3 separate regions of the Homo sapiens genome follow, and regions 1 and 3 are each reported to be linked to region 2. Evidence: microRNA targets listed by miRTarBase, many of them from high-throughput screens and not tested one by one. Region 2 holds a microRNA gene; each other region holds the end of a gene's coding sequence.
What was found. Region 2 holds the annotated microRNA hsa-miR-212-5p (ACCUUGGCUCUAGACUGCUUACU, at 4,678-4,700, opposite strand). A microRNA usually pairs through its seed, bases 2 to 8, with sites in the 3' UTR of a target mRNA and lowers its output. Matches are read on the target gene's strand: a 7mer-m8 pairs with bases 2 to 8, a 7mer-A1 pairs with bases 2 to 7 and ends in A, and an 8mer does both.

Region 1: miRTarBase lists MANEAL as a target of hsa-miR-212-5p. Seed matches in the 3' UTR shown: 7mer-A1 at 6,494-6,500.
Region 3: miRTarBase lists GPRC5B as a target of hsa-miR-212-5p. Seed matches in the 3' UTR shown: 7mer-m8 at 8,731-8,737 and 7mer-m8 at 6,049-6,055.

Annotation. Positions count from the first base shown.
Region 1 is chr1:37,797,472-37,807,315 of GRCh38, reverse strand. It overlaps MANEAL (mannosidase endo-alpha like), which reads right to left. Exons shown (of 4, transcript NM_001113482.2): 4 at 6,183-7,749. The coding sequence ends at 7,113. YRDC (yrdC N6-threonylcarbamoyltransferase domain containing) reads left to right here. Exons shown (of 5, transcript NM_024640.4): 2 at 101-215; 3 at 340-459; 4 at 2,872-3,014; 5 at 3,319-4,371. The coding sequence ends at 3,391. Among named protein-coding and RNA genes, the nearest start is that of C1orf122, 5.4 kb to the left of the region's middle.
Region 2 is chr17:2,045,651-2,055,494 of GRCh38, forward strand. MIR212 (microRNA 212) reads right to left here and starts at 4,730; the gene lies at 4,621-4,730. It overlaps MIR132 (microRNA 132), which reads right to left and starts at 4,358; the gene lies at 4,258-4,358. It overlaps LOC124903896 (a long non-coding RNA gene), which reads right to left and starts at 4,299. Exons shown (of 2, transcript XR_007065576.1): 1 at 3,511-4,299; 2 at 3,057-3,108. HIC1 (HIC ZBTB transcriptional repressor 1) reads left to right here and starts at 9,453. Exons shown (of 2, transcript NM_006497.4): 1 at 9,453-9,588. RefSeq lists silencers at 4,054-4,853, 4,864-5,013, 8,017-8,486, 9,237-9,736 and an enhancer at 5,559-6,454.
Region 3 is chr16:19,851,632-19,861,341 of GRCh38, forward strand. It overlaps GPRC5B (G protein-coupled receptor class C group 5 member B), which reads right to left. Exons shown (of 4, transcript NM_016235.3): 4 at 5,060-8,913. The coding sequence ends at 8,869. It overlaps IQCK (IQ motif containing K), which reads left to right. Exons shown (of 9, transcript NM_153208.3): 9 at 4,856-6,836. The coding sequence ends at 4,917. Among named protein-coding and RNA genes, the nearest start is that of GPRC5B, 28 kb to the right of the region's middle. RefSeq lists enhancers at 1,566-2,484, 2,485-3,404, 6,555-7,754, 9,028-9,609.

The DNA of each region.
Region 1 (9,844 bases), not on the chromosome of region 2:
TAAACTCGAAGGATTCCTTTTCTACGTCTGCCTAGAGTCTAGGAAAGGACCACCAGTGGCCCTTCAATTTTGAATGGATTTATTCTTCTGTGTTTCCCAGATACTGCCGTGTGAGAGTACCTGAGGGGCTCCTGAAAGACCTACTGCCAGGACCAGTGACCCTGGTGATGGAACGCTCGGAGGAGCTCAACAAGGACCTAAACCCTTTTACGCCTGTGAGTCAAGTTTTCTCTTGTGTCCCCAGACTCCAGGCCACTTGGCTTTCACTAGGATCCAGATAAGACTTACCCTCTTATCCCTTCCAACCTTTCTCATGATCCCTTTCCCCTTGCCTTACAGCTTGTAGGCATTCGGATTCCTGATCATGCTTTTATGCAAGACTTGGCTCAGATGTTTGAGGGTCCGCTTGCTCTCACTAGTGCCAACCTCAGCTCCCAGGCCAGTTCTCTGAATGTCGAGGTGAGTTTACCCAGTCCTTCCCCTGGAAATGTCACCAGCGCACATACTGTTTTCTGTGAATCAGTGGCATTGATAGTACACTGGGATGGCCAGGCATGAGAGTTCTTGGGCCAACAGTGGGAAGGTTGCCCAGCTGGCAGGGAGGTGGTGGGGGGCAATATAAATTAAAAAAATTTGAAAGATTTTATCTCAAAGTCTGAAAAGCCAGGGGGAGAATTGGTCTTTTCTTCAGTCTTTATAATAATAGGAAAGATTATAAGAACAATGTCTTCCTGTTTTTCTGGAGATAACAGTTTCTGGAGAACACAGTTAGGCTATAAATCTTCACGACAGTGCTGTAAAGAAAGATGAAGAAGGCCAAGGGCAGTGGCTCATGCCTGTGACCCCAGCACTTTGGGAGGCCCAAGCAGGTGGATCATGTGAGGTCAGGAGTTTGAGACCAGCCTGGCTAACATGGCAAAACTCCATCTCTAATAAAAAATACAAAGATTAGCCAGACATGGTGGCGCATGCCTGTAATCCCAGCTACTTGGGAGGCTGAGGCAGGAGAATCACTTGAACCTGGGAGGCAGAGGTTACAGTGAGCTCAGATTGTGCCACTGTACTCCAGGCAGGGCTCTAGAGCGAGACTCTGTCTCTTAAAAAAAAAAAAAAAGATGAAGTTTAGCCTCCAGAAAGTTAAATCACTTGTTCCAGGTCACACAGCCATTAAGTGACTGACTCAGATTTTTAACCAGTTTTTGATTCTCGCCCCTGTTCTCTTATCTCTGCCACAAGCCAGATCAAAGAAAGGATCATCCTAATCCTTTCTTGGCTACATAGATTAGAACAAAGGAGGACACATAGAAATTTCGTTTTTTTTCTTATTACTAAGATGTAAAACGTAGTAATAAGCTACATTGTGTCCCCAGACTCGGCCAGACACATAGTATCACACATAGTATCCAGCATCAGGCCTTGGGCCTTCCTTGGGCTTATTACATCCAGCTAATAAGCCTGGATAGAGTAACTTGCGTGCAGTCACATAGAGATACGATGGAAAGTCCAGAGTTAGAGCCCGTATCCCTGCTCAGAACTCCATTCGATGGGTTTTCCATTCCCAGACCTAGAGTGGGGCTCAGGGTTCTTAGAAAGTGAGAGTTCAGCATCCCTTCCCATTCTCAGAGTGCAGGTTTGACTTGGTCCTGGTGGCTGTACCCCAGGAGCAAGAATCGGGATGTGGCACAGGGAGGGGAGGTTTTTACCTTGTCAGCAATCATTTGACCTGTCCAACACAGTAACTGGTATTTATGATTTCCTGTCCCAGATTTCCAGGCCTAACTGCCACTGCAGTGTCTTCCTTGGGGGGTTGGGGAAGCTCTAGCTCAGTTAACAATTCAGTCCACTGCTCTAGGGGGAGTATCCTTCTCATAGCCCAAAGACTGAGTGCTGGTGGCATGCAGAATCTACCATGTTCTACTCTTCCTACCCTGATCAGAGTCGCAGTGAGATCCAGGAGCATAGTTCTAGAGCTAGAAGGAGCTGGAATCACTTGTTCCAGGTTACGCAGCCATTAAGTGACCAGATTTTTACCTAGTTTTTTTTTGTTTTGTTTTGTTTGAGACAGTCTCACTCTCTTGCCCAGGCTGGAGTGCAGTGGCACCATCTCAGCTCACTGCAACCTCCATCTCCCGGGTTCAAACAGTTCTCCTGCCTCAGCCTCCCGAGTGAGTAGCTGGGATTACAGGCGTGTGCCACCATGCCCGGCTAATTTTTGTATTTTTAGTAGAGATGGGGTTTCACTATGTTGACCAGGCTAGTCTCAAACTCCTGGCCTCAAGAGATCCAGCCTCCCAAAGTGCTGAGATTACAGGCGTGAGCCACCATGCCTGGTCTTTTTACCTAGTTTTTGACTCTTGACCCTGTTCTCTTATCTTTGCGGCAAGCCAGGTCAAAGAAAAGATCATCCTAGTCCTGTCTTGGCTACATAGATTAGAACAAATGAAATGAGGACATAGGATCATCTAGTCCAGCCCACTTGTCTTGTAGGCCTGGATAGAGTAACTTGCATGCAGTCACACGGAGATACGATGGAAAGTCTAGAGTTATAGCCCGTATCTCTGCCCAGAACTCCATTCATTGTACTTATATTTCCCTAACTGAAGCAATGTGTGAAATTTCCTTTTGACATAGCAAGATTTTCTTTAAACCCTAGATAGGTGTTACTTGGAGTGCTAACCCAGGAGGCCTCCAAACCTCATAGAATACAGTGTCTTTGGCACAGTTGACCTTAACTAAATGAAGCTCCTTTCTCTGCTTAGAGGAAAGTGCCTTCTGTTTTAAGACTATATGGCCTTTGATGACTGCGTGCAGTTTGACATTATTGGATACACCAGGGATAGTGTCCATGCTCTTCCTTCTCCCTCTTCTCAGGAGTTCCAGGATCTCTGGCCTCAGTTGTCCTTGGTTATTGATGGGGGACAAATTGGGGATGGCCAGAGCCCCGAGTGTCGCCTTGGCTCAACTGTGGTTGATTTGTCTGTGCCCGGAAAGTTTGGCATCATTCGTCCAGGCTGGTAAGTCTCTTTCCTGTGGTGTGGGGAAATAATTTGAGGGAGGTTGGAGAGATGCAAAAAAGCTTTGACAAGATAAAGATGGTGCCTCCTATGTTGCCCTGAAGGAGTGTGGGCCAGGTTTGGAGAAGTGGTAGTTGCAGTGGGACTAAGTTTCCTGGCTTTCTTAGGATTCAAAAGGTTTCATCAAGGGTTGATGAACAGGGCTTAACAAGGCTAGCCAGTTTCGATGTCCCTGCTCACCAGCCTCTGGTGGGCTCGGGACTTCTGAGAAGTCAGACTGGTAACTGTCCTGTTTCCTCCTCAGTGCCCTGGAAAGTACTACAGCCATCCTCCAACAGAAGTACGGACTGCTCCCCTCACATGCGTCCTACCTGTGAAACTCTGGGAAGCAGGAAGGCCCAAGACCTGGTGCTGGATACTATGTGTCTGTCCACTGACGACTGTCAAGGCCTCATTTGCAGAGGCCACCGGAGCTAGGGCACTAGCCTGACTTTTAAGGCAGTGTGTCTTTCTGAGCACTGTAGACCAAGCCCTTGGAGCTGCTGGTTTAGCCTTGCACCTGGGGAAAGGATGTATTTATTTGTATTTTCATATATCAGCCAAAAGCTGAATGGAAAAGTTAAGAACATTCCTAGGTGGCCTTATTCTAATAAGTTTCTTCTGTCTGTTTTGTTTTTCAATTGAAAAGTAATTAAATAACAGATTTAGAATCTAGTGAGAGCCTCCTCTCTGGTGGGTGGTGGCATTTAAGGTTCAAACCAGCCAGAAGTGCTGGTGCTGTTTAAAAAGTCTCAGGTGGCTGCGTGTGGTGGCTCATGCCTGTAATCCCAACATTCTGGGAGGCCCAGGCGGGAGAACTGCTTGAGCCCAGGAGTTCAGAATCAGCCTGGGCAACATAGCAATACTCCGTCTCATAAAAATTAATAAATAAAAAGTCTCAGGTGACCAAAGGCTCCTGAAGCTAGAACCAGGTTTGGATAAAGATTGAAGAGCCACAGGCCACTCTTCCCTCTGAGCCATTGGGCCTAGTGGTGTCATGTATTGTAATTGCTCGCAGGGAGAGCAGTCTTTTTGGTGTAATAGTGGGATGTCTGCTTAGTTGGCAGGGGTTCAGTCCAAATGGAAGAATATTGGGAAATAAACCTCCACTATCCTTTATAGCCAGGGACTTTTTTCTTATTTATTCATAAAATAAATTATAGTTAATTATACCCATAACACCTTTATTTAAATCCAGTGTTCTCCGCAGCCTTTTGTCTATTTATATGTGTACCAAGTGTTAAACATAATTATTATTGGGCATTTGAACTTTGTTTTTCTTTAAAGAAATGCTGCTATTAAACATATTTGTAAATGGTTTGTTTTTCTTCTTTTGAATTATTTCCTTAGGAGAGTAGGTCAAAGTGTAGGAAGTATTTATGGCTCTCAGTATGGATTAGCCTTCAAAAGAACTGAGTCAAGTTACACTGCTGTTAGCAGTGTGTGAGAATGGCTGCCTCTGCCCCCTGGCCTTCCCATGTTTAGTATTTTTCAGATTGTGTGTGTGTTAAATGAAGCCAGTGTTGCTACCTTCTGTAAATTACTACAGGTCAACATCCAACCCTTTCAGCTGTCCCTGCCTGCCTTGGTTTCCCCAGCTAAGCCCCAAAGCCAGGTGGCCAGGCCTGCTCATCTCTCTGGTGGGGCTTAATATCAGTTACCTAACTGGGGCTGGGTGTCCTTGAGGTGACCACTGGGGTCTATTTCCTCCTTCCTCCCCTTCCCTCTTGTACCCTAGTTCCCAAAATTCTGATTCAGTCTTTTTTTTTTTTTTTTGAGACAGAATCTCTGTTGCCCACACTGGAGTGCAGTGGCACGATCTTGGCTCGCTGCAAACTCCGCCTCCCAGGTTCAAGTGATTCTCACACATCAGCCTCCTGAGTAGCTGGGACTACAGGTGTGCACCACCACACCCTGCTAATTTTTTTGGTATTTTTAGTAGAGATGGAGTTTTGCCATGTTGGTCAGGCTGTTCTTGAACTCCTGGCCTGAAGTGATCCACCCGCCTTGGCTTCCCAAAGTGCTGGGATTACAGGCATGAGCCAAGGCACTCAGCCCATTTTTTACTTTTTTAAAGACACGTCTCTCTGTGTTGCCCAGGCTGGTCTCGAACTCCTGAACTCATCCTTCCACCTCAGCCTCCCAGAGTGCTGGGATTACAGGCATGAGCGACCACGCCTAGCTTCCAATTCAGTCTTGAGCCCATAAACTTCTCAGTACAGTGGTTTCCAATGCACCTGTTTCCAAGTATATCCTAAGAATCTTGTGTTAACAGGGGCCTGCTTTAATCAGGGTTCCTGCAATTAGCGTATTAGTTTATTGGTAAATAAGCACTGGTTTGTTAATTCCCTCTAGAAATCTTGTTTAGTAATGTTTTTTGTGTTTTCTTTTTGTTTGTTTGTTTGTTGTTTTTGTTTTGAGACAGTCTTGCTCTTGCCCAGGCTGGAGTCCAGTGGTGCCACATTGGCTCACTGCAACCTCCGCCTCCCAGGTTCAAGCGGTTCTCCTGCCTCAGCCTCAGAAGTAGCTGGGATTACAGGCACCCACGCCCAGCTAATTTTTGTATTTTTAGTAGGGATGGGGTTTCACCATGTTGGCCAGGCTGGTCTCGAACTCCTGACCTCAGGTGATCCACCTTCCTTGGCCTCCCAAAGTGCTGGGATTACAGGTGTGAGCCACCACGCCCAGCCTTGTTTAGTAACTTTTTTTTTTTTGAGACGGAGTCTCGCTCTGTCGCCCAGGCTGGAGTGCAGTGGCGTGATCTCGGCTCACTGCAAGCTCCGCCTCCCGGGTTCACGCCATTCTCCTGCCTCAGCCTCCCAAGTAGCTGGGACTACAGGCGCCCACCACTACGCCTGGCTAATTTTTTTGTATTTTTAGTAGAGACGTGGTTTCACCCTGTTAGCCAGGATGGTCTCGATCTCCTGACCTCGTGATCCGCCCATCTCGGCCTCCCAAAGTGCTGGGATTACAGGAGTGAGCCACCACGCCCAGCCATTGTTTAGTAATTTCTTAAGCAAACCTACTTGTTGTGGTAAAGCCATAGCCAGCCCAGCTCCTGTATCAGTTTGTCACAGAATCTAAGGTCAGAATCTGTGAGGTCTTAAAGAGAGCAAAAGGAATGCTTACTTGAGAATACCAGTTCATATTTAATTACTACTAATCACAGTAGCACTGAACATGGCTCTAGTGAGTGGGCCTCAGTCAGTTCAGGCAGCTAAAGGGAGGGGGATTTCCTCCTAGTCCTCTCCCTAGAGCTAAATATGCATCTGGGAAAAATTAGGCTCTGGAGCACAGAGGTATTTTTCTAGAGGAAAAAGAACTGAACTCCCAGCACTAGGTAAAACTGCAAAAAGAAAAACACCTGTGCCCAGGCACTAGCTACAAGGCCACACCAGAAAAGGAAAGCTGGGTCCTGGAAGCTTCAGGACAGGAACTCTTCCTTGGTCAAGTTTTCCCCAGCACCTAGCACATAGGAAGGTGCTTGATGAGTGAGTGTTAAATGAACCTGTGAGTGCTCAGGATGATTTCCTGATAATTGGGTTCAGGAATCTACTGGGAGGAGCTTAAACCTAGAAGTTCCCTTTTTGAAAGTCTCAAATATGGTTCCCTAACTTAGAGAAGACAGATGATGTGGGAAGGAGGCCTGAGGAGAGGATGCAGGCTGGCAGAAGGGAGCAGGGTGCATGCGAGCCCAGACCCTGACACCCTTCCAAGGGTGGTGACTGGGTGGCCACTACACAGCACCAGCCTGCTGCAGAGTTCAAAACTAGAAGGGGTTACATGAAAGTGTTCCCAGGATGTGGAGCTGCCCTGGGCTAAGTTCAGTCACCTGCCAGCCTCTGCCGTTCCCATCACCACAGAGCACCTCAGCACCACTCGCCTGAGGAACGGGCTCTGTGTTGCACAGGCCCATGCCTGACGGCCCACCCAGAAACACCCATCTGCTGACCTCTGACCTGGGAACGAGTGAGTGGCTACAACCTCAGCTGAACCCCACATGGTGACATCTTCCAGCAAGGCAAGGACATCAGCACCTCACGCCCATTTACAGGCCCCTCACATGAGCCACTGCTCCTTCTCTTTGATGAAGTGCTCCGCCCAGCGGCGTGTCAGCTCCAGGTACAGGCTGGGCTGGTGAGGCAGGTAGTCCAAATACAGGCGGGTGGGTGTCTTCTTGGGAATGGCCTTCTCAATCTGGGTGCCCTCGTGCCACTCATTGAAGGAGGTAATGGAAACGATCTCGGGCCTCACTGTCAGGGCCGCCTGCAGGGCCGTCTCATAGTACTTGCCATTGACCCTGTTGCGCGTATTGTGGTTGTTCCAGGGCCGAATGCTGGTGTCTATGTAGCCAGGCCCCACACTGGGGATGAACATGAGGTTGTTGGCATCACAAAAGTTCTTCACAGCTTTCCAGTTCTGATGGGAAGAACCAAAGGAGAAACCATTGGAGGCAAAGTAGGTGTACATGCCGTCAAATCCGGCGGCCAGGATATCGTGGGTGTGGCCCTCCTCCACCAGCAGCGCTATGAAGACCCCATCGTAGGGCGTGTTGCGGATCGAATGGGGCCCGTTTGGTGTCAGGAGGTGGGCCCAGGCCTCAGGGGACGTCAGGTATGAGTCGTAGATATAAAAGAGTGGGAGGCTCTTGCCCATGCTGTTCTTATAGCGGTAAAATGCACCATGGGAGCCATACCTGAGAAGGAGAAAGAAGAGCCTCAGCTGGATGGGAGAGACCAGCACAGCTGTAGGACCTCCCGTGGATGAGATACGGATGCAACACAGCCCAGTTCTGGAGCCAGTCAGTCTCCACAGTTGGAGTCATCATGCCTCTAAGCAAGAACCTGGTTCCCTCCTTCCTCTCTCCAGTTGTCATTCCTAAGCCTCACTTCCCTACCCTTAGCCAAGCCACCACCGTCTTCCATCTGGATTGCAACAACAGCCAGCTAACTGGTCTCCAGGCTCCCATCCTGCCTCCATATAATCCATTCATTATTCCCACCTACTTGATCTGGCCCTGCCTACTCCATTCCTGCTCTTTTCCCAGCTATTACTCCCCATCTGGCCTTTCTATCCGGCTCTCATGTGTCATGCAAGCTTGTTCCATCTTATGGGACTTGCATCTGCCAGCCCTCTGCTTGGAATTTTCTCCCTGCCTCCGGATCTTTGCAGAGCTGACCCTTTTTCTTTTCTTTTTTCTTCTTATTATTACTACTTTTTTCTGAGATAGGGTCTTGCTCTGTTGCTCAGAGCTGGAGTGCGGTGGGCGATCTCAGCTCACTGCAACCTCTACCTCCTGGGGTTCAAGTGATTCACCTGCCTCAGCCTCTCAAGTAGCTGGAATTACAGGCACCCGCTACCATACCTGCCTAATTTTTGTATTTTTAGTAGAGATGGGGTTTCACCATGTTGGCCAGGCTGGTCTTGAACTCCTGACCTCAGTCAATCCACCCACCTCAGCCTCTCAAAGTGCTGGGATTACAGGTGTGAGCCACTGGGCCTGGGCTTTTTTTTCTTTTTTCTTTTTTTTATTCTTAAGTCTCACTGTATCGCCCAGGCTGGAGTACAGTGGTGCCATCGTAACTCACTGCAACCTCAAACTCCTGGGCTCAAGTGATCCACTCACCTCAGCCCCCCAAATAGCTGGGACAATAGGCATGCATCACCATGCCCAGCTAATGTTTAAAAAAAAATTTGTAGAGATAGAGTCTCCCCATGTTGCCCAAGCTGGTCTCAAACTCCTGGCCTCAAGTGATCCTCCCACCTCAGCCTCCCAAAGTGCTGGGATTACAGGTGTGAGCCACCACACCCAGCCCTGACTGCTCATTCAGGTGTTAGCTCACCTGTTGTCTCCTCAGACTCACCTGACCTGACTATCCATTCTTAAGTAGCATCGTGGGCACACTCTAGCACAAAATCCTGTACAGATCACTGTTTGATTTTTCCCATTTAATTACTGTCTGCTCCACAGTACCTGCAACATACACTAGAAAGTAAACATTATGAAATCAGAAATTTCGCTAGTCCTACCCATTACTGTACAACTGGGCTTAAGTCAGTGCCTGGACACATGTAGGCACTCAATACTCTCTTTTTTTTTGTTTGTTTTTTTAAGAGACAGAATCTTGCTCTGTTCTCAGCTGGAATGCAGTGGTGTAATTGTGGCTAACTGTAACCTCAAACTCCTGGGCTCAAGTGATCCTCCCACCTCTGCCTTCCAAGTAGCTAGGACTACTACAGGCATGCACTGCTATGCCCAGCTAATTTTTTTTTTCAGTAGAGATGGGGTCTTGCTATGTTGCCCAGGCTGATCTCAAACTCCTGGCCTCAAGCAATCAATCCTCCCACCTCTGCCTCCCAAAGCCCTGGGAGGCCGGGTGCAGTGGTTCACACCTGTAATCCCAACACTTTGGGAGGTCGAAGTGGGCAGAGCATCTGAAGTCAGGAGTTCAAGACCAGCCTGGCCAACATGGTGAAATCCCAGGCTGGAGTACAGTGGTGCCATCATAGTTCACTGTAACCTCAAACTTCTGAGCTCAAGTGATCCACTCACCTTAGCCCCCCAAGTAGCTGGGACCATAGCTGTGCATCACCACGCCCAGCTAAAGATACAAAAATACAAAAGTTAGCTGGGTGTGGTGGTGGGCACCTGTAATCCCAGCTACTCAGGAGGCTGAGGCAGGAGAATCGCTTGAACCCAGGAGGCAGAGGTTGCAGTGAGCCAAGATTGTGCCACTGCACACCAGCCTGGGCAACAGAGTGAGACTCTGTCTCAAAAAAAGAAAAAAAAA
Region 2 (9,844 bases):
AAACCTGAATTCTGGCCCTGCGTGGTGGCTCATGCCTGTAATCCCAGCACTTTGGGAGGCGGAGGCGGGCAGATCACCTGAGGTTGGGAATTTGAGGCCAGCCAGACCAACAGAGAGAAACTCTGTCTCTACTAAAAATACAAAATTAGCCAACCATGGTGGCGCATGCCTGTAATCCCAGCTACTTGGAAGGCTGAAGCAGGAGAATTGCTTGAACCTGGGAGGCAAAGGTTGCGGTAAGCCGAGATCACGCTATTGCACTCCAACCTGGGCAACGAGAGCGAAACTGTCTCAAAAAAAAAAAAAAAAAAAAGTAGCTGGGCGTGGTGGCATGCACCTGTAATCCTAGCTACTTGGTAGGCTGAGGCAGGAGAATTGCTTGAACCCAGGAGGCGGAGGTTGCAGTGAGCCGAAATTGTGCCACTGCACTCCAGCCTGGGTGACAGAGTGAGACTCCATCTCAAAAAACCAACTTGAATTCTGGGGCCAACTCCAGATGTACTGAGTCAGAATCACTGGGACCCAGGAATCTGCATTTTGGCAAATTGCCCCCATCATTCCCAAGCAGGGATTTGAAAAGCCACTGCCTTAGGGGTTGAATGAAAGCCTCGGGTGAGGGTGTGTTATCTGAAAAACCCCTAGTGTGACTCTCTTGCAACCCACCAGGGAGGGGAGCAAGCTCCCCAGAACAATCACTGCTTAAACATTTTCAATTTATAGCAAAGGAAAATTAGGTCTGAAGGATAGAAATAGGAATAGCATTTATTTATTTACTTACTTATTTGAGACGGAGTCTCGCTCTGTCACCCAGGCTGGAGTGCAGTGGTACAGTCTCCGCTCTCTGCGACCTCCGCCTCCTGAGTTCGAGCGATCCGCCTGCCTCAGCCTCCAGAGTAGCTGGGATTACAGGTGTGCATCACCACTCCCAGCTAATTTTTGCATTTTCAGTAGAGACAGGGTTTCGCCATGTTGGCCAGGCTGGTCTTGAACTCCTGATCTCAAGTGATTCGCCCACCTCAGCCTCCCAAAGTGTTGGGATTACAGGTGTGAGCCACTGCACCCGGCCAGAAGAGCATTTATTGAGTAATAACTGTATACCAGACATTGTAATAAGCAAGAGCTTTAATGCGGCCTAATTTAGGGCCAGGTGCGATTGCTCATGCCTATAATCCCAGCACTTTGGGAGGCTAAGGCATGAGGATCAATTGAGCCCAGGAGTTCAGAACCAGCCTGGGAAACATAGTGAGACCCCCTCTCTACAAATAATTTAAAAGTTAGCTGGGTGTGGTGGCATGCACCTGTGGTCCCAGCTACTCGGGAGGCTCAGGTGGGAGGATCACTTGAGCCCAGGAGTTTTGAGGCTGCAGTAAGCTGTGATTGTGCCACTGTATTCCAGCCTGGGAGACAGAGCTAGACCCTGTCTCCAAAAAAAAAGAAAAAAAAACAAACTACAAAAATTGGCTGGGGGTGGTGGCACACACCTGTAGTCCTAACTACTCAGGAGGCTGAGACAGGAGAATTGCTTGAACCTGGGAGGCGGACGTTGCAGTGAGCCGAGATCATGCTACTGCACTTCAGCCTGGGCAACAGAGCAAGACTCCATCTCAGAAGAAAAAAACAAATAAAATTATATATATATAACACATATATATTTTATATATATTAGGCAATAAATATATATAGCTTAAACCTTACAACTTCATGTTTAATCTCACAACTTCATGAGGTAGGTACCATTATTATTATTATTATTTGAGACGGAGTGTCACTCAGCCACCCAGGCTGGAGTTCAGTGGCACGATCACGGCTCACTGCACCTCCGTCTCCTGGGTTCAAGTGATTCTAGTGCCTCAGCCTCCCAAGCAGCTGGAATTACTGGCAAGCACCACCATGGCTGGCTAATTTTTTGTGTTATTAGTAGAGACGGAGTCTGACCATATTGGCCAGGCTGGATTATTATTAAGACAGGGTCTACCTCTGTCACCAGGTGCAGGATCATGGCTCACTGCAGCCTCGACCTCTTCGGCTCAAGTGACCCTCCCGCTTCAGCCTCCTGAGTAGCTTAGCTGAGACTACAGGTGCCACCTATCACACTGGCTTTTTTTTTTTTAAGACATGGGGTCTCACTATGTTGCCCAGGCTGGTCTCGAATTTCTGGGCTCAAGCAGTCCTCCAGCCTCTGCCCCGCCCCGCAAAATGGTGTGATTACAGGCATGAGCCATGTCTCCCAGCCCTAAATAATGATTTTTTTTTTTTGAGACAGGGTCTCACTCTGTCATCCAGGCTGGAGTACAGTGGTGCAATCACAGCTCACTGCAGCCTCAACCTCCCAGCCTCAAGCAATCCTCCCACCTCAACTTCCCAAGTAGCTGGGACTACAGGTGTGCACAACTAATTTTCTTTCTTTTCTTTCCTTTCTTCTTTCCTTTCTTTCTTTTTTGTAGAGATGGGAGTCGCATTGTATTGCCCAGGCTGGTCTCGAACTCCTGGGCTCAAGAGATCCTCCCACCTATGCCTCCCAAAGTGCTGGGATTACAGGCGTGAGCCACTGTGCCCTGCCCTAAATGATTTCTAAGATGCTAAACAACCCTGACGTACGGTCAATCCTCTGGTTCTTTCCCCTCTGACCACATTCTGACCTCTTCTCAGAATATCCCAACCATTTCTGTTTTCCACCTCTGATTCCACCTTGGATTCCTAGAGCTCTTAGGAGAGAGAACCCCCTTAGCAAGGAACCTCTCAACAGCCCCAGGCCCAGAGTGAACCCGGGAGGCGGAGGTTGCAGTGAGCCGAGATAGTGCCACTGCACTCCAGCCTGGGCGACAGAGCGAGACTGTCTCAGAAGAAAAAAAATAAAAGTATATGTATGTATAACATATATATAATATAGATTATATATATATTAGACAATAAATATATATAGCCTAAAGCTCAAGGTGTACCCCCCACATCCCGTTCATTCTGCCTAAGTGCACAGAGCTGGGGTCCCCTCCCAACACCACCCCTTCACAAACATGTAGTAGCCTAACAGAATACTTAAGATCAAAATAACATTCTGCTGTTTTTGGATTTTTACTTACATGATCCTATTTAATCCTCACAGTGCACCTGCCGAGGAGAAGAGATTATTATCCCGTTTTACAGAAAGCTCAGAAACAGAATATGGCCCCTTAACCACCAGTTGCTGATAATGCCAGGTTGGACCTCTGGCTTCCCAGAGCACTACACCCAGCAGTCCACTGCAGTCCACCCACTGACATCCCCTGGAACCCAGAAGCAAGTGCGTTTTAATCTGCAAGACCTCGGGGCCCTGGGGAGGTGGGATGGCTAGCATGTGGGTGTTGATTAACTGGGAAACCGGCACGAGTGTCTTAGAAGTACTTCACAAAGGAGCCGGGTGGGGAGTGAAGGAGGGGGTGGGGCGTGAGACGTTAAGAAAAATTGGATTAACGTGTCGTGGGCTGGGTTGCATTAACCATTCCCAACACTATCTCTGGGGAAGTCTCACACCTGATATTCAATAGACATCCCCTGTAGTGGGTGATGTTGGCAGAGGCAGGCGACATATACAATAATATTTTTAGAGATCCTTGTTCACACTTCATCCGCACCAGAGGACTTCAGCCCCTGTGGTATTCACTCCTCTTTAGGGCTAATTTGAGAAACTGTCTCAGATTGGAATCCAGCACCTAGAGATAGGCTGAGGTGAGCAGGCTGATCTGTTCAGACGCTTCGCGGACCAGGTTAACTTTACAAGCTCATTGGCTTCCAGAGGGTTGGGGACCCTTCTTATCCTCCTAGCTCAGAGGGAAAGATTCAAGAGTTTACTCTTCGCCCAATGCCCACTTCAGCTAGGGGTTCCTGGAAGAACGGGGCTGTGGAGTATCTCAGAAAACTTTCCTCCCTCTACTGTCTTCAGGCCCCAGGAGACAAACCTCCTTCCAAGCCTCCTGGTCCCAGTGGCTTCCCTCTCACCGAAATCGAAAGAACCCGAGTCCCAGCCCGACCCCTTCTCTCGCCGAGCCCTGGCTGGGATACCTTGGCCGGGAGGACAGGACGGCCTCAGGCTGGCCGCCAGACGCACTCCGCAGGACGCGCGCGCTCGAGCCTCGGTGGACTCAGCCGCCGGCCCCGGGAGGCCGCCTCCCTGCGCAGCACCTCCTGCCACCCGCGCGGGCACGTGGGATCTTGACTCGCCGCCCCCGCCTCCTTCTGCTCCGCGTCCCCAGCCCGCGGCTCGGGGCGCGGCGTGGCGCGGCGCGTGGGCGTGCTGCGGGGCGACCATGGCTGTAGACTGTTACCTCCAGTTCCCACAGTAACAATCGAAAGCCACGGTTGCCCTGGAGACGCGGGGGCGGGGCGCGCGGACGGCGCCGGCGCGGGGCGGGCTGACGTCAGGGCCGCGGGGGGGCGGGCGGGGCGGCGGGGGCTGAGGAGCGCGCGTGGGCCACCGCCCCTCGCAGCCCCTAGGGACCCGGACGGGGCGGCCCGATGGCGGCGCCTGCGTTGATCAGCACCGCGGACAGCGGCGGCGCAGGCAGCGGGCCGGGGGCGGGGCCCTGAGGGACGGGGACTGGGGGTCCCCGGGCGCGGCGGCGGCGGCCGGGGCCGCGGTCCTGGGGCGGGGCCAGGCGTCGGTGGCCGTGACTGGAGACTGTTACTGAGGGCGGCCCGGGCAGTAAGCAGTCTAGAGCCAAGGTGCCGGCGCGCTGTCCGGGCGGGGTGCCCCGGTCGCCCCGGCTGCCCCGGCTGGGGGCTCTGCTGCTCCGCCTCCCCTGCGTCTCCCGCCCTGCCCCGCCCGGCGCTCGCGACCAGGCACGCGGCCCCTGACGTCAGAGGGCCGTGACGTCAAAGATGTCCCAGAGGGGGCACTTCCGGCGGGGGCGTGGGGGCGGGGCGGGACCTGGGAGGCCCCGCCCCCCCGGTCCTGAGAGGACAGCTCCGCTCGCAGAGGCGGGAAGCCGTGGGCGCCGCGGGACCCGCTGGACGGGACCTGCCGGGAAGGGGCGCCCGACGCCATGCGGGGCGGGGGTCCCAGGAGGGCCGGGGAAGCGGGGGTGGGCGTCCGTCTCTCGCCTGCACCCCCGCTCAGCCGGCCCGGGCAGCGAGGCTGAGTCACCGCGCCGCAGGGAGGGAGAGGAGGGGGCGCGTCTCCTGGGGCGCCAGCACCTTCGCCTCACTTTCCTGGGAGAATGGCGCAGGAGCCCCAAGAAAGCCGGGGGGGGGTCTCCGAGGTCGGTCCTCCACTCGATGCTCCTCCGAAGTAGCTGCGTGTCCATCGGGCGCCGGCAGGTGCTGCGCGGGCTCGTGTCGTCTCTGGCCCCGGCTCCGCAGCCGCGAGGGGACCCCGGTGCCCCCCGTCCGCCCCCATCCCCACCCCGGAGGGGCCGCCCCACCCGCCGCCTGCCCGTCCCCTCCTCGTCCTCCCGTCCGTGTCCGCACATCTGTCCCTCCGCGGCTGGTCCGTCCCGCTTACCTGGCGGGCCGCGTCGCCACTGCCCGGTCGCCTCCCGCAGCCTGGCCGGCGCGGCGGCTTTTATAGGCGCGCGTAGTACTCGTGCGGCGGCTCATTCATGCGGCCGCGGCTCCTACACACTGACGCGCTGCCGACGTCAGCGGGGAATTTAGGAAATGGGAAAAGGGGCTATTTATAGTGGCGAGGCGGGGGGTGGGGACCGAGGCGACCGGGAGGGGAGGAGGGGGCGCGGAAGCGGCGGCGGGGTAGGGGGAGCCGCGCCCCTGCCCAGCCGACAAGGGGTTAACTTTCCGGAACCGCGGGCCTGGGGCCGGGGAGGCGGCGCGGAGGGGCGCGGCGGGCCCTTCGAGCTTATTCACGCTCTCCTTCCGGAGCCCCGCGGCTCCTGGGGGTCTTCACGTGGCAGCCCCTTCCCCCTCCTCAGTTCCTGGACCTGACGTTTCTGCCGTCACACCCCGCAAGGCCACTGCGGTGTCGCCACCCTCTCGTCCTGCAGGGTGGGCAGGAGAGGAAGCTGGACTCCCGTGGGGGCCTGGGGCGCAGCGAGGGCTGTGGCGTCGGGGGCCGGGAGAAGAAGAGTAGGGGAGCCCAAAGTAGCCCAGGAGTCTTTAGCGGAGGAACCTGGGCCTGGGAGGGAAGGCCCAGCGGGGATTCAGGTACCACCCAGGAGCTGGAGACCCGAGGGACGGCAGAGAAGTTGGGGAAGGTGGGCCAACCTCCCCAGAAATGATGAGCAACGGGATCCTCTATGAGGGAGCTGGGGGAACGCGCCAGAGGTAGGGGTGAGAGGAATGGGCAGCCTCAGCAAGGGAGAGAGGAAAGGCTGTCAGTGCCACGCTCCAGAGCCTGGCATCCAGGACCCACCTTCGGACCATTTGTGGCACGATGGACGCTCCCAGAGCTCACGTTAGGGTAATAGAGAGTGAAGGAGACCAGCAGCTTGGCCAAGAGGGGCCCCCAGGGGATGAGGAGGACGGTTTCCTGGAGAAGTTAATGTTCCCGGAGACCAGAATTGGCAGGGAGAGCCCATGACTTGTGGGGCAGTTCCCCTGGTTGGGAGCGGGGAAATGCATGGTCCTGGCCCAGCCTGGCTCCATCGAGATGGAGGAAGGGTCTAAATGAGAGGAGTGTGTTCAGACGAGGAGCTGGACCAGGATGGGGAGGGCTGTGCAAGGCATGGCCGGAAGAGCGGGGCAGGGAGAGAAAGGTCGAAGAGTGAAGTGCACAGGAGGGCAAGGCGGTCCTCACCCTGCCTGGGCTGGGGCAGGGCTGTGAGACCCTCCCTTACAGAAGCAATGAGGGCTTGAGGAGGGGGTTAGGGGCCTGGGCTGGGGCAGGGCTGTGAGACCCTCCCTTACAGAAGCAATGAGGGCTTGAGGAGGGGGTTAGGGGCCTGGGCTGGGGCAGGGCTGTGAGACCCTCCCTTACAGAAGCAATGAGGGCTTGAGGATGGGGTTAGGGGCCTGGGCTGGGGCAGGGCTGTGAGACCCTCCCTTACAGAAGCAATGAGGGCTTGAGGAGGGGGTTAGGGGCCTGGGCTGGGGCAGGGCTGTGAGACCCTCCCTTACAGAAGCAATGAGGGCTTGAGGAGGGGGTTAGGGGCCTGGGCTGGGGCAGGGCTGTGAGACCCTCCCTTACAGAAGCAATGAGGGCTTGAGGAGGGGGTTAGGGGCCTGGGCTGGGGCAGGGCTGTGAGACCCTCCCTTACAGAAGCAATGAGGGCTTGAGGATGGGGTTAGGGGCCTGGGCTGGGGCAGGGCTGTGAGACCCTCCCTTACAGAAGCAATGAGGGCTTGAGGATGGGGTTAGGGGCCTGGGCTGGGGCAGGGCTGTGAGACCCTCCCTTACAGAAGCAATGAGGGCTTGAGGATGGGGTTAGGGGCCTGGGCTGGGGCAGGGCTGTGAGACCCTCCCTTACAGAAGCAATGAGGGCTTGAGGATGGGGTTAGGGGCAGTAAGTTAACTTGGGGAGCGGATGTGGGGGAACGCTGAAGAATAAAGACTGTGGGCACAGCAGACCCCTGGGGCAGGTTAGCAATGCACAGACTCCACTGCACAAGATACATGGGGCGGAGGGGCTCTTTGGAAGTCGGGGGTGGGGGATCTGACTCTATCAAAAAGAGAAAAGATAAAAGAGATGGGGTCAGAGAGGCCCTGCATAGTCTGGATTTGGCCTACTAGAGCTCCAGTTTTCTTGCCGCTAGCCTTTGTTCCAGGGATTCTGTTATTCACAAATGCCTTCCTGCTCGGTAGAAGAACTCCTATTCATCCGTCAAAGCCCAGCTCTAGGAGCACTTATGAGGAGCCTCTCCACCTCCCCTCAACACTCCGTAACTTCCACCTCAGGCCGCAGCACGTCCCTCGGGCGAGATGTCGGGGTCCGCCTTCCCTAGAGACCGGCAGCTCCGGAGGCCTCCGTTTTCCTCTTTGGGACCTCACTGCTTCTAAAGTGAGGATGCTATGGGGAGACATGGGAGAGGGAGTGGGTAAGATGGATCCAGAACATGGGGCGGACTCAGGCAGCGGCGGGAATCAGGCGGACTCGTTTGGACCGAAGCCTCCGCCAGGCACCGAAGCCGTGAAGTCGCCTGCGCAGCAAAGGGAGCCTCCGGGGGGCGCCCGAGACCTTGGTGTCGCTCGGGGGCCGCTGGTAGCCGCGCCCGCTGCCCCTCGCCCGGTGACTCAGCCGGTACCTCTGGCGGGGCCATGGGGGCCAGAGGACAGCGCGGGGGGCGGCGAGCGCGGTTGCTAAGCTCTCCAAGGCCTCGGAGGGACAGGATCTGGGCGCACCTCACCGGTTGCCATGGTAACGCAGCGCCCCAGCCCCTCGCGCTCCGCGGTGGAGGGAGGCGCAGCCAATCGGAAGCGGCGGAGTTCTCGGGGACCCCCCCCCCCCCCGCTCCACGCCGTGTGTGGGCGGGGGTCAGGAGGTGCGGGGCGGAGGCGGAGCGTGGGCCGCGGAGATCCGGCGTTCGCAGGAGGCTTGGTGCGCGGCGGGGCTGCACGGGGCCACTTCCGGAGTAGTACTGCGAGCAGCGGCGCGACAGTGCGGGGTCCCCTTTCTCCCAGAAGAGACGTCACCCACACAAACCTGACCTTCACGTGGGGCGCGGGACCTTGCGGGGTCCCAGCCGCAGGCGCCCCTGTTGTTTCCTTCGGGCGGGTGGGTTGGAGAAGAAGTCCACGCGGGATTCTTCAAAACGGCGTACAGGGGGATTCTAGGGCCCCATGGTTACTTCTTTGGACCCCCCGGAGGCGCTGTCCAGCCACTTCCAGTCGCCCTGATGACTCGTCGTGGGTTCCTTTAGGAGACCCGAAAGTTCAGGGCGGGCTGTGTGGGTAACACCTCTGCCCAGGTTCCCGGAGGGCCCTACGTGGCTGCCCCTGGAGTATCCCAGAGCGCTAGGGCTGCGGGAAGGGGCGGGTGTGCTTCTGGAAACATGAGCGCCTGTTAGTATCAGTGCCTGGATAGGGCTGGGGACAAATCAGTTTATGCCGCGCACACCGAATCCATGCGCCTGAGTGAGGGTGGGTGTGTTGGGGAGTGCGTCCAAGTGGACAGTGCCGTACAGTAATGTCTACGGGGAGTTCCAGGAGAGCTCGGCTACTCCTGCGCAGGATAACCTCTCCCCCACCACCCGAGTCCCGTGCTCGCGGGCAGGACTTTTCCGAACTGGGGCTGTGTGCCTAGAAATACGTACATGGGAGCGCTCAGCTCAAAGCCCCAGGGTTTCTGGGACTCGCGTGTCCGGGGTCGGGGTCCCAGGTGGGTACAGGTGGGAGGGCGAACCTGCGGGTAGGGTGGGCCCCTCCCCGCGGGCTCAGCATCTGTGCGCCTCCAGCTCAGGTGCGCGGGAGGAAGGCAGCGGCCTGCCGCGCAGAGCCCTGCGCGCCCGCGAGGTGGCGCCATAGCCGCAGCAGCGCCCGCCGGCCCGGGCCGCTCCAGATAAGAGTGTGCGGAAAGCGCGGCGGGGCTGAGACGCGACCAGGACGCGGGGAGGACGGACCAGCAGGACAGACCGACCGGGGGCCCGGCGGGCGGAGGGCAGCGCAGCCACGTCCCCCCTGGATCCGCCGTCAGCCGGGCCCGGGGCTTTCGACATGCCCCCCAGGTGGGTCCTCGAGCCGGGGACCGGGAGGGACGGGGGACCCGGGACAGCCCGGTCCTCGTGCGTCGGCCGCCTCGGGTGCATCTTCTGGCGCGGGTGCCCCATCGCGGCTGGCGGCTGGCGTTCAGGGCTCCGGGTGTCGTCCCTTTCGGACTCAGGACCACCGGGCCGCGGCTCCGCGCCGGGTTCACGGCGGGGTCAGCGGCCCGGGGCCGGCTCTGCCCGCACATGGGCTGGAGAGGCGAGGGGAAGGGAAGGG
Region 3 (9,710 bases), not on the chromosome of region 2:
AATTGAAGCTGAAGGGCTGGCGTATCTCTCTCTGGGATTTTCCACTCTCCCAGCCCTTCCGGAACTGGCTGGGCACCAGCCTGCTGAGAGGGACAAGGACAGCATAGGGGTGCCGAGGCATCTGTCTGTTGGTGTTGGAAGCCAACCACGATGATGTCTCCGAGCTAAGGTGGAAGCTGCATTCTACAGCATCCTGGCTTACTTCTTCTCTCCTGCCTCTCACCCCTGCTTCCCTCCCCTTTTCCTCCCTCCGCTGATCAAGTACCTACCTGTGCAAGGCTGTGTTCTGCTAAGACCAGGAGGAGGAAGACCACCAAGTCGAGATTTTATCTCTTGCTTAATTTTTAGCAAAGTAGTGCATCCCCAGAGGCAATGACTTTGAACTTCAGCTGCTCCTCGGGGTGTTACTTCTGTATCTGGAACAGGTCTCTATGGTAATAAGATTTTCAATAGGATCTACTGATTTCCTGCCATGATAGGTGAGGGTTAGCTTAGATTCCATCCCTCCCCTCCTCAAAACAGCTAAATCATTCTTTTCCATGCCTTTATTGGTTGGCTTTGTAATTTCAAGCAATACACGAACATACCTATTTCTTTTTACCTTTTGGGGGGTGAAATATGCGTACAACAGTGGCTATAAAACACATATAACAATAAATAAAAACATTTGTGGAGGATCGCTTGAGCCTCCACAAGCCTCCAGAGGCTGCAGGGAGCTATGATCGCACCACTGCACTCCAGCCTGGGCAACAAAGCGAGACCTCTCTACAACATTTAACAAACAAACAAACAAACAAACAAACAGAACACTGTCAACAGTTTTAAAGCTCTTCCCCCATGAAGCCACTTCTCTGACTATCATGATAGCTGTTCTCTTGCTTTTCTTTGGAGCTCTTTTCACGTTTGTATGCATCTCTCAGCATTTAGATTTGCTATAAATAGAATCACACTATATGTATTATTCCGTGCCTCTCATCTTTCCTTCAACTTTTTTTTTTTTTTTTTTTTTGAGATGGAGTCTCGCCCTGTCGCCCAGGCTGGAGTGCAGTGACGCGATCTTGGCTTACTGCAAGCTCCGCCTCCTGGGTTCACGCCATTCTCCTGCCTCAGCCTCCCGAGTAGCTGGGACTACAGGTGCCCGCCACCATGCCCGGCTAATTTTTTGTGTTTTTAGTAGAGACGGGGTTTCACCGTGTTAGCCAGGATGGTCTTGATCTCCTGATCTCGTGATCTGCCCGCCTCAGCCTCCCAATGTGCTGGGATTACAGGCGTGAGCCACCGCACGCGGCCTCCTTCAACATTTTTGAGCTAATCCAAGTTGATGCGTGTGGCTTCGGCTCACTCATGTTCAGTGTTGTATAATCACTGGTCAAGTAGACCACAATTGGTTTATCCAGTCAACTGCTGATGGACATTTGGGTTGTGTCCAGGTTTTGCTATCACGAGCATCCTCCCAGTACACGTATGGAAGGGTTTCTGCAGTGGGATACGGGAGTGGAATCATTTGTATTCACTGTCAGACTCAGTTCCATTTGGTAACGCCAAGCAGTTTTCCAGTGTAGTTGTGCCTCCAGAGATGGTGACCTAATTGTGTAGGGTGTTCAGAAATCCCCAGGTAATTCCACTGGGAGGCTCCACGTCACACCTTGATTTCCAGCCCGTCAACTCGAGATAACACCTCTCGGTCCTCCCCCATGAACAAGGTCCCTAGCTCATTCCTTTCTGCTCTCCTCTGTCAAGATTTCTGAGTGATGATCTAAAGAGATACTAAGGGGCTTTTTCCCAAGCAAGGTCAACACGTAGGGAGTAGGCAACAAGGTTGTCAAGGTATGGACAGGAATTGGGTAAAATACCAGGACAACAGCTTGCAGGTGAATTCTTCCTTCAGGCAGTTGAAGAAAACTAAAGAAAACCCAAGGGCTGGGGAATTCTCCCAGAAGCCAGTCCTTCCCTCCAGCTATTAATTGCCTCCAGCATCTGTCTGTCTGCCAGCTATCTCTCTCTCTCTTTTTCTTTTTTTGAGACAGTCTTGCTCTGCCACCCAGGCTGGAGTGCAGTAACACGATCTTGGCTCACTGCACCCTCTGCCTCCCTTCAAGCGATTCTCCTGCCTCAGGCTCCCAAGTAGCTGGGATTAACAGGCGCCTGCCACCACGCCCAGCTAATTTTTGTAATTTTAGTAGACAGGGTTTCACCATGTTGGCCAGGCTGGTCTCGAACCCCTGACCTCAAGTGACCCACGTGCCTCGGCCTCCCAGAGTGCTGGGATTATAGGCGTGAGCCACTGTGCCCAGCCTGTCTGCCAACTCTCTCTCTAGCAGCTTAAACTGTGAGACTCACAGGCAGCCAGCATGATGTTAATAAGTTGAGGGGAATTCTAGACTCTTCAGGGTCCTACAGTCACGTTTCTTTAAAGGGATTCTAAGCCCCATCTGTGTCTCAACCCTGGCTGAACCTTAGCAACACACAGGAGCTTTACCTAGCTACTGATGCCCAGGCCCCAGGGTAGTTACATCAGAATTGCTGGAGTGAAACCCAGGCACCAATAAATTTCAGAAGCTGACCATGTGATTCTTACAAGCAGCCAGGGTAGAAAACCAGTAATCAGTGGTTCTCAAACTTTAACTAGCATCCATCAGAATCACCTGGAGGCCTTGTTAAACTGTAGATGGGTGGGCTCCACCCCCAGTGTCTGGTTCTCTCTGCCTGGAAAAGGGCCCTGAATTTGCATTTCTAACAATTTCCCCCTATTGCAAATGTCCCCAACTTGTCCCTAGAGACCCAGCCTGATCCATCAGAATCACCTGGAGGCCTTGTTAAAATGCAGATGGATGGGCTCCACCCCCAGTGTCTGGTTCTGTCTGCCTGGAAAAGGGCCCTGAATTTGCATTTCTAACAATTTCCCCCTATTGCAGATGTCCCCAATTTGTCCCTAGAGAGCCAGCCTGCAGGTCTGAAGTTATGCCTGATGCTGGCTGCACTAGTTGACCTGTGTACCTCCCTGGGGGGATCCAGGGCAGCCCCGCTCCATCTGACTGTGCGCACCTCTTCCCAACTCTGTTACGTTGTCAGGCTGCTGGCTTCCAATAGGCTATGGAAATGGCAAATGATACAACTCGGGACTCTCCCCCAATCCCTGGGGAGCTGTTAATCACAGCTAGTGGGACAGTCTTTAGGGAGGTGTGGCGCATCCTTGACTATGAAGAGTCAATGTCATCGTTAGTAGGGTCTAGAAGCACATAGGGTTTTCACTGTGGTTGCCCATAGAGCTTCCATATAAATGGAATAAAAAAGGTATATACCTTGAAAAAATGTTTTAAAATGTCCTGTGACCACAGGCTCCAAGTATTAAAAATATTTTTTTCTGATTTGTGTTGCTAATACAATGATTAGTAGTACGCAAAACCAAATAAATACATGATACAATTTGATAGTTGTCAAACATAGAAAATAAGGAGACTCTGAGGGCCCTCATTTTGAACTGCCTTCTTGTTTGGCACCTGGGGAGTCTTTACACACTGGGCCAGGAATGACAGGAGGGTGGGAAGCTGATGATCTGGAAATTGATTTCCTTTGAATGAACCATGACCAAGAACCCTTGCCCTCAGTTTGAAGACTGCAGGGCTGGTCTGTGTTGCTGAAGGCCCTCATCCCACCTCCATCAGAAAATAACCACAGGGCCAGGCGCAGTGGCTCACACCTGTAACCCCAGCACTTTGGGAGGCTGAGGCGGGTGGATCACTTGAGGCTGGGAGTTCGAGACCAGCCTGGGCAACATTGGGAAACCCATCTCTACTAAAAATACAAAAAGTAGCAGGGCGTGGTGGTGCACGCCTGTAGCTACTTGGGATGCTGAGGCAGGAGAATCGCTTGAACCTGCGAGGCGGAGGTTGCAGTGTGCCGAGATCTTGCCACTGCACTCCAGCCTGGACAAGAGAGACTCTGTCCCCAAAAAAACAAAAAAGTGCATTTCATGGGATGGTGTACATACCCACCTCTTTGCCGCATCTGGCTGGTGCATGCCCTTAGTTGCTGGGAGGTCAGGACGAGGGCAGGTTCACTTGAAACCTCAGCCCTACATAGTAACAAGCTCAAACACCCTTTTTACCAGAACAATGCTCTCCACAAATCATCAGAACCTGTGGCCTGGCTCAAACCACCTTTCAAGACATTCACATATGGGCAAGCAGCACTTGGACACTCCAGACAAAGATATATTAAAAGAGAGGGTCTTTCCAAAAGGATCCCTACTGCACCCACCAAGGGACTGGGTTTCCATATTTAATTGGGGAGAGGCTTTTATCTGTTGGGATTAATTCCCCTTACACACAGAGCCATACCCTGTATGGAGCTAACTTTCCTGTTTGGCAGACACAGGAAATCACCGAGATCAGGTTCTTGGTCCAGACCATGACATAAGAGAAAAGATTTTCTTCAGACCTTTGCATTGCCCCCAGTGATACCCTGAGTTTTCCATTTTGGGTGGCTGGAGAACAGGGTGTGTGGTGACAGATGGGGTTGAGCGGAGAGCCTGGAATCTGTCATCGTCTTTAGTAAAATTGCCTTCCTTCAGTACCCTGACCGGCAAAGCACACTTCTGACCTCTTTCTGAACTGAATTAAGAATGGCCATGAACAGTCCGGGAAGTGGTTTTGAACTTTCAGGTGCTGTCCTTAGAGCACAATGGGCCTGTGTTCTTCCCCGTGGATCCATGGGGCCGGAACCATGAATAGCAGGCGCACAGTGGGTTTTGGTGCAACTGACCTTGTCCACACATCAGAGTTTCCGGTTTCCCAATGACAAGCCTGTCTACGTATGTAAATTGATCCTGACTTTCCCTTTCTTTTCTTTGCAGTGAAATGCAAAATGGAGGACGATGCAGTACCTGCAGCCAAGATGAAAATTCCATCATCTTAACCATAGCTAAGACGTATCTTTGCCCATTCGAGCACAAGTTACCTTGTGCAAGGAAAATGTCCAAATGATGCTCTCTCTCTTGTGATTTCTTTAACAAGACTTGGAACATGTGCAAATGGAATCTTTTCTGTACAAGATAGGATTCATTGCAAACAAGCTTTAATGCAAATAGTTTAGAAAAGAAAGGACCAGTCTTCACTTTCTGCATTATCCCCACATTTTATTCATTCATCCAGATTACTTCTTCAGTGCCTCAGGAGTATTCTTCTACACCAGCTGCTGTTAAAATGTACAATGAACTCTAGTCCCAAGGAATACAGAAGTGCTCTTATTACCAGTTTTCCCACTTGTGGCCGCCTTTGCAAAGATCCATATTCTAATTTAAGTCCCCAACCTCTGAATTTGGTTTTAAGTTTACCTAGTGACTGACTACTCTCTTTATAAAAAAGACCTTATACTTAATGATCATTTCCAAAGGAGACCACTCCTTAACTTTTACTGCAAACCCAACAAGATGAGACACTTAAACCCAGACAGATGTAACAAAGGATTTTTGTTGTCTAAGTCCCAAAGTATTATATAGAAAGTTCCTGCTTTTATGGGTAAACTTATTACCTTAATATGTTCTGTGGTTTGCTGTTAACCAAGATTCTCCCATTTAAAATGCCACAGACCGACCCTCAAGGCAGATCCGAAAGCCTAGTAGTTAGTTGCACTGGGTTGTTTTGACAAGCTACCACACGTCTTAAGTAAATAGTAAAGCCTTTATTTTTGTGTTAAGAACAGCATTTTGAAAATAAAACCTATCTGCCCATGGTTTACAGCCTTTTAAATTTGTAATATTTATATAGTCGTTTATGGTACATATTGATTGTCTTGAAATTTCTTTAACTTCTTTTTTATAAGTATGCAACAGTCAGCCGGGGGAAGATAAAGGTACATTATAAAACACACATTAATGCATTTAATAAATATATATTATCTATCAAAAGTGAGCCTTAGCTCTTCATCAGTTAATAAAAAGCACCTGCTGAGAACTCCTGTAAGCTGGTATCATCATTGCATCATTGGATTATAAAAGCCACAATGCTCCCTTTCAACTTGGGGTTTGGCCTGAGGCGTTCAACTCAGCCTTGGCCAACCGAGACCACCACCCGAGTTCACCCTTGTTCAGTGGGTCCTGACGGCATCTGGGCTAAAAAAAAAAAAAAAAAAAAGCACTGGGCGCCCAGCTTCCAACAACCAGATCTTCAACTCTGGAATCCCTGGAGATGCACAGAACTTCCCAGTTTGTAAGCTGTCAGAGCTGACTCCCTTCTCTTCCCACCCTCCACCTCCAGTGGGGAGAAATCCAGGCTAGAATGACAATTTTCTATTAAAAGGGGGGACAAGAGTGGCTGTTATAGACCCAAAGCGATTTTAATAACCAGACACGGAACAATTTGTGCTTACAATGAGAGATTTTGATCACAGATGCTCTCCTCCCGGGTCGTTTTCCCCAAACGAGTCTTGTTTACACACGCAGATCTTAAACAGAGGTGCCATTTAATTTTGTCTTTAAACCTTGCTCCACGGGGGGCAGCTGGCTGCTACAGTCTCTTGGCAAAGATGTCTCTTGATACTTTTCAGGTGTAGTCATTAGAAAAAGAACAGCTCTCTCCCTTCTCCTCTCACTCCCGCCTCCGCCCCCATTATGAAGGCGTTCAGCCCACTCTCAACCTTAAAAGCCAAAATAAAACAAAACCCTAAGTGCGATAACATATCAGATTTAAAAGGGGGGAAAAAGGTCTCATTAAATGAGGCTTCCCATGGCTCAAAGATGGCTCTGTTCTTATGCTGGGGAAGCACGACTTTCCATGGCAGCCATTTGTGCTGTGCTCACCTTATATGCTTGGACAATAAAGAACTTAGAAAACGAACGTGTGAATTGCTCCATCGTGTGAATGGTATCAGAAAGCTCCAAAGGACTCCAGAGAGCGGGGGTGAGTAACCATTTCCTGGCACGAGAATGTGTAATGCTGTCGTTTTTTCACCGGACAGGACCGAGGTGTTTGAAGATTTCTTTCTTTTCAGAATACCGGGTCCGCATGCAACCGCCCCCACCCCCACCCCAGGTCCTAGCTTCATTCCCTCCCACCCCTCCCCAGGACTCTTACGTTTTCTGTCCACGCAATGACTGGAACGGGATTCTCTAGAAGCAAGCACATGCTCTGGGCAGAGGCGGGGTGCTTCCGGGGAGGTCAGGTGGGGGTGGCATTCTGGGGCCATGCGTTTTCTTCCCCATGCGTGGTAACACAAGGAAATGTACTAACTGTTAAGGAAAACTCGAAGGCGGGTCACACAGGGAGGGCCAGATTGGCCTTACTTTCCCCAGTGCTTTGCAAGGATGGGGTGGGGAGGGGAGACAGCAGAGACTAGGGCCTTGAGAAATATCAAAAGGTTTATTGAAACATACTCAGCTCAGACGTACTGGCTTATGAAGCGGTCAGTCCTCCCCCGGCCCCCAAACACTAACCTTTTTCATTTTTCTTTAAAGGTTAAAGGCTTATGGGTAGTTTTATAGAAAAAGCAATGTAGTGATTAGAGTATCTGCAGAAGGACCCACCCTCATTTATACATTCCATGCCGTCAGGTTAAAACTCTGCTTTGAATCGATGCTAGAGGTTATGCTGGCCAAACAGTGCAGAGAACATGGGGGCTTTGAATGGCCGAGATGTTCGAAATGCTAAATAACAAAGGAATGACTTGCTCAGGACAGATGGAAACCATGACAGAAACAATGGGCTTGGAAAAGGGCTGTTTTCATGGAACCTGCAGAAAAACCAAAACAAAATATCCCCCACACCCTCCAAAAGCAACAAGAAACCCTCATGTGATCCATTCCATCCAGGAATTTTCACCATAGCAACGGAAAGGACCCGAGGTGTCACTGCTTGTGAGGCAGCGAGAGGTCATCTCTGCATCCTAGTGGGAACCCCTGAAGCCCTGCTAGGTGACATCATCGCGGAAAACCTGCCGTGGTGCCTGCCTTCCAACCTGCCTCCCGGAGGGGCTTTCAGCTGGAGACCCCATTGGAGCTCTTGAAATGAATAAGGGAATAAAATTGGGAGAGGATTTGGAGATACACCCGTAAGTGTAGGAACAGGGCGAGATGATCAAGGGAAGAAGGGACTGCTGCCCCAAGCCAGAATATTTCTATGGCTCTACAAGGGAAGGGGCGGGGCCTGTGTTCTCACCATAGACACTAGAGCAAGAGCCCCATAGAAGGAACAGTGGTTGATCACTTTCCAAATGTGATGGTCACTTCATCACCCAGAGGGCCTCTTCTTTGGCACATGCCAGGGTCCCTCCACCTCTACTGGCTATAAAGCTCACCCCACGATTCAGTTGGGCCTCACCTTGGAATCCCACCCACAACCTCCTTAACTCTCCTGACCCCCCTGAAATGTGCAAACCACCAGGCAAGCCGGTGGCAAAGTCCCCATTTGTCCTCAACGCAACGGTCATCTCCAAGAGGCTACCTGGGGTCCAGCACTTGCTGGGGAGAGGTGATAAGAGTGGGAGCCCCCCACCTCCAACCAACACCAGTCTGGCCCACCAGCTGTGAATTTGGTTCTGTTCTACCCCCAGAGGATGAAACAGTCTTCCCAGCCACATTTTCCAGTGAGCCTAATACTATTTGCAATTAGCTTTGCTTTAGTTTGCGGGGATTGAGGTTGGTCTGGTATTACGTGTCTGTGTGTGTGGCAGGGGAGGGGCGGGCAGTCGGTGTTAGCTTTTCAGTTCGTCAGTGTTCACATTTACACGAAATCCCCTTGGCTAGGATTTCCAAATTTCCTGGCTGTGAGGCGGCCTGGTTCGGCAACTGTTACCGATTTCTCCCTCAAGAAAGACACAGCCAGGGAGGCAAATCGGTAAGAGAAATTCTGATTCTCTGGAACTTAAAGTCTTTCACCAAAGGTGTCTTCCTGTGTGACTTGGCGGAGCAGTTGGGATCTGGAATAACACATAAGGATAACACACTGAGAACTCTGTGCTTTGCAAAGTCAACACTAGAAACCGATGCGTAAACAACGCGGCAAAAATAAGTTACCTTGCTTTTACCTAGATGGGTCGAATAATTCCCAGGAGAGGCAGCAATGACTGTGAGTCATGCTGCTGTGGTTCTTGGGAAGCCCAGCTCCCTTTTCTATAACCATCCACCCGTAAGGAATGTAAGTTCAACTCATTCACTTTCAGTCTTGACTATTTTTTCACACACTGGCCTTGAAGGAACCAGGAGGGCTTAAGAGTGACGGATGGGGGCTTTTCTAAGCATATTTATTATAACACACAGGCCGAATGCTTGTGAATCAGGCTTTTCTTGGCTCGGGACAATAAAACAGCCCAGTCGTTGGCAGGGGGTTTTAAGAATGCAAATCTGTGATTCTGTCTTTGAGCCTGTTCCAAACCAATGCAAACCAATGCCTAGCATACCATTCAAAAGGCCAGGAAAACCTAAATTCCCTCTAGAGATCAAAGACCATCCCTGATTTACATAAAAAAAAAAAAAAAAAGAAGAATGCTCAGGTTGAGTTATGGAGTTGGAACATGATATAAAGAATGGAAACCCAATTTACACATGTAAACTGGCTCAGACCTTGTTTCTGAAAGAAGCATGTAGCTATGTTTGGAAATTAAATGTGGAGATGAGAGTGCATCTTTGGATTGCTGGAGAAACAAAATGGTGTCATTCCAAGGAGGCAAACGTAAACAATGACAATTCTGCTGAAGGTCTGTTTGGCATCAGATAG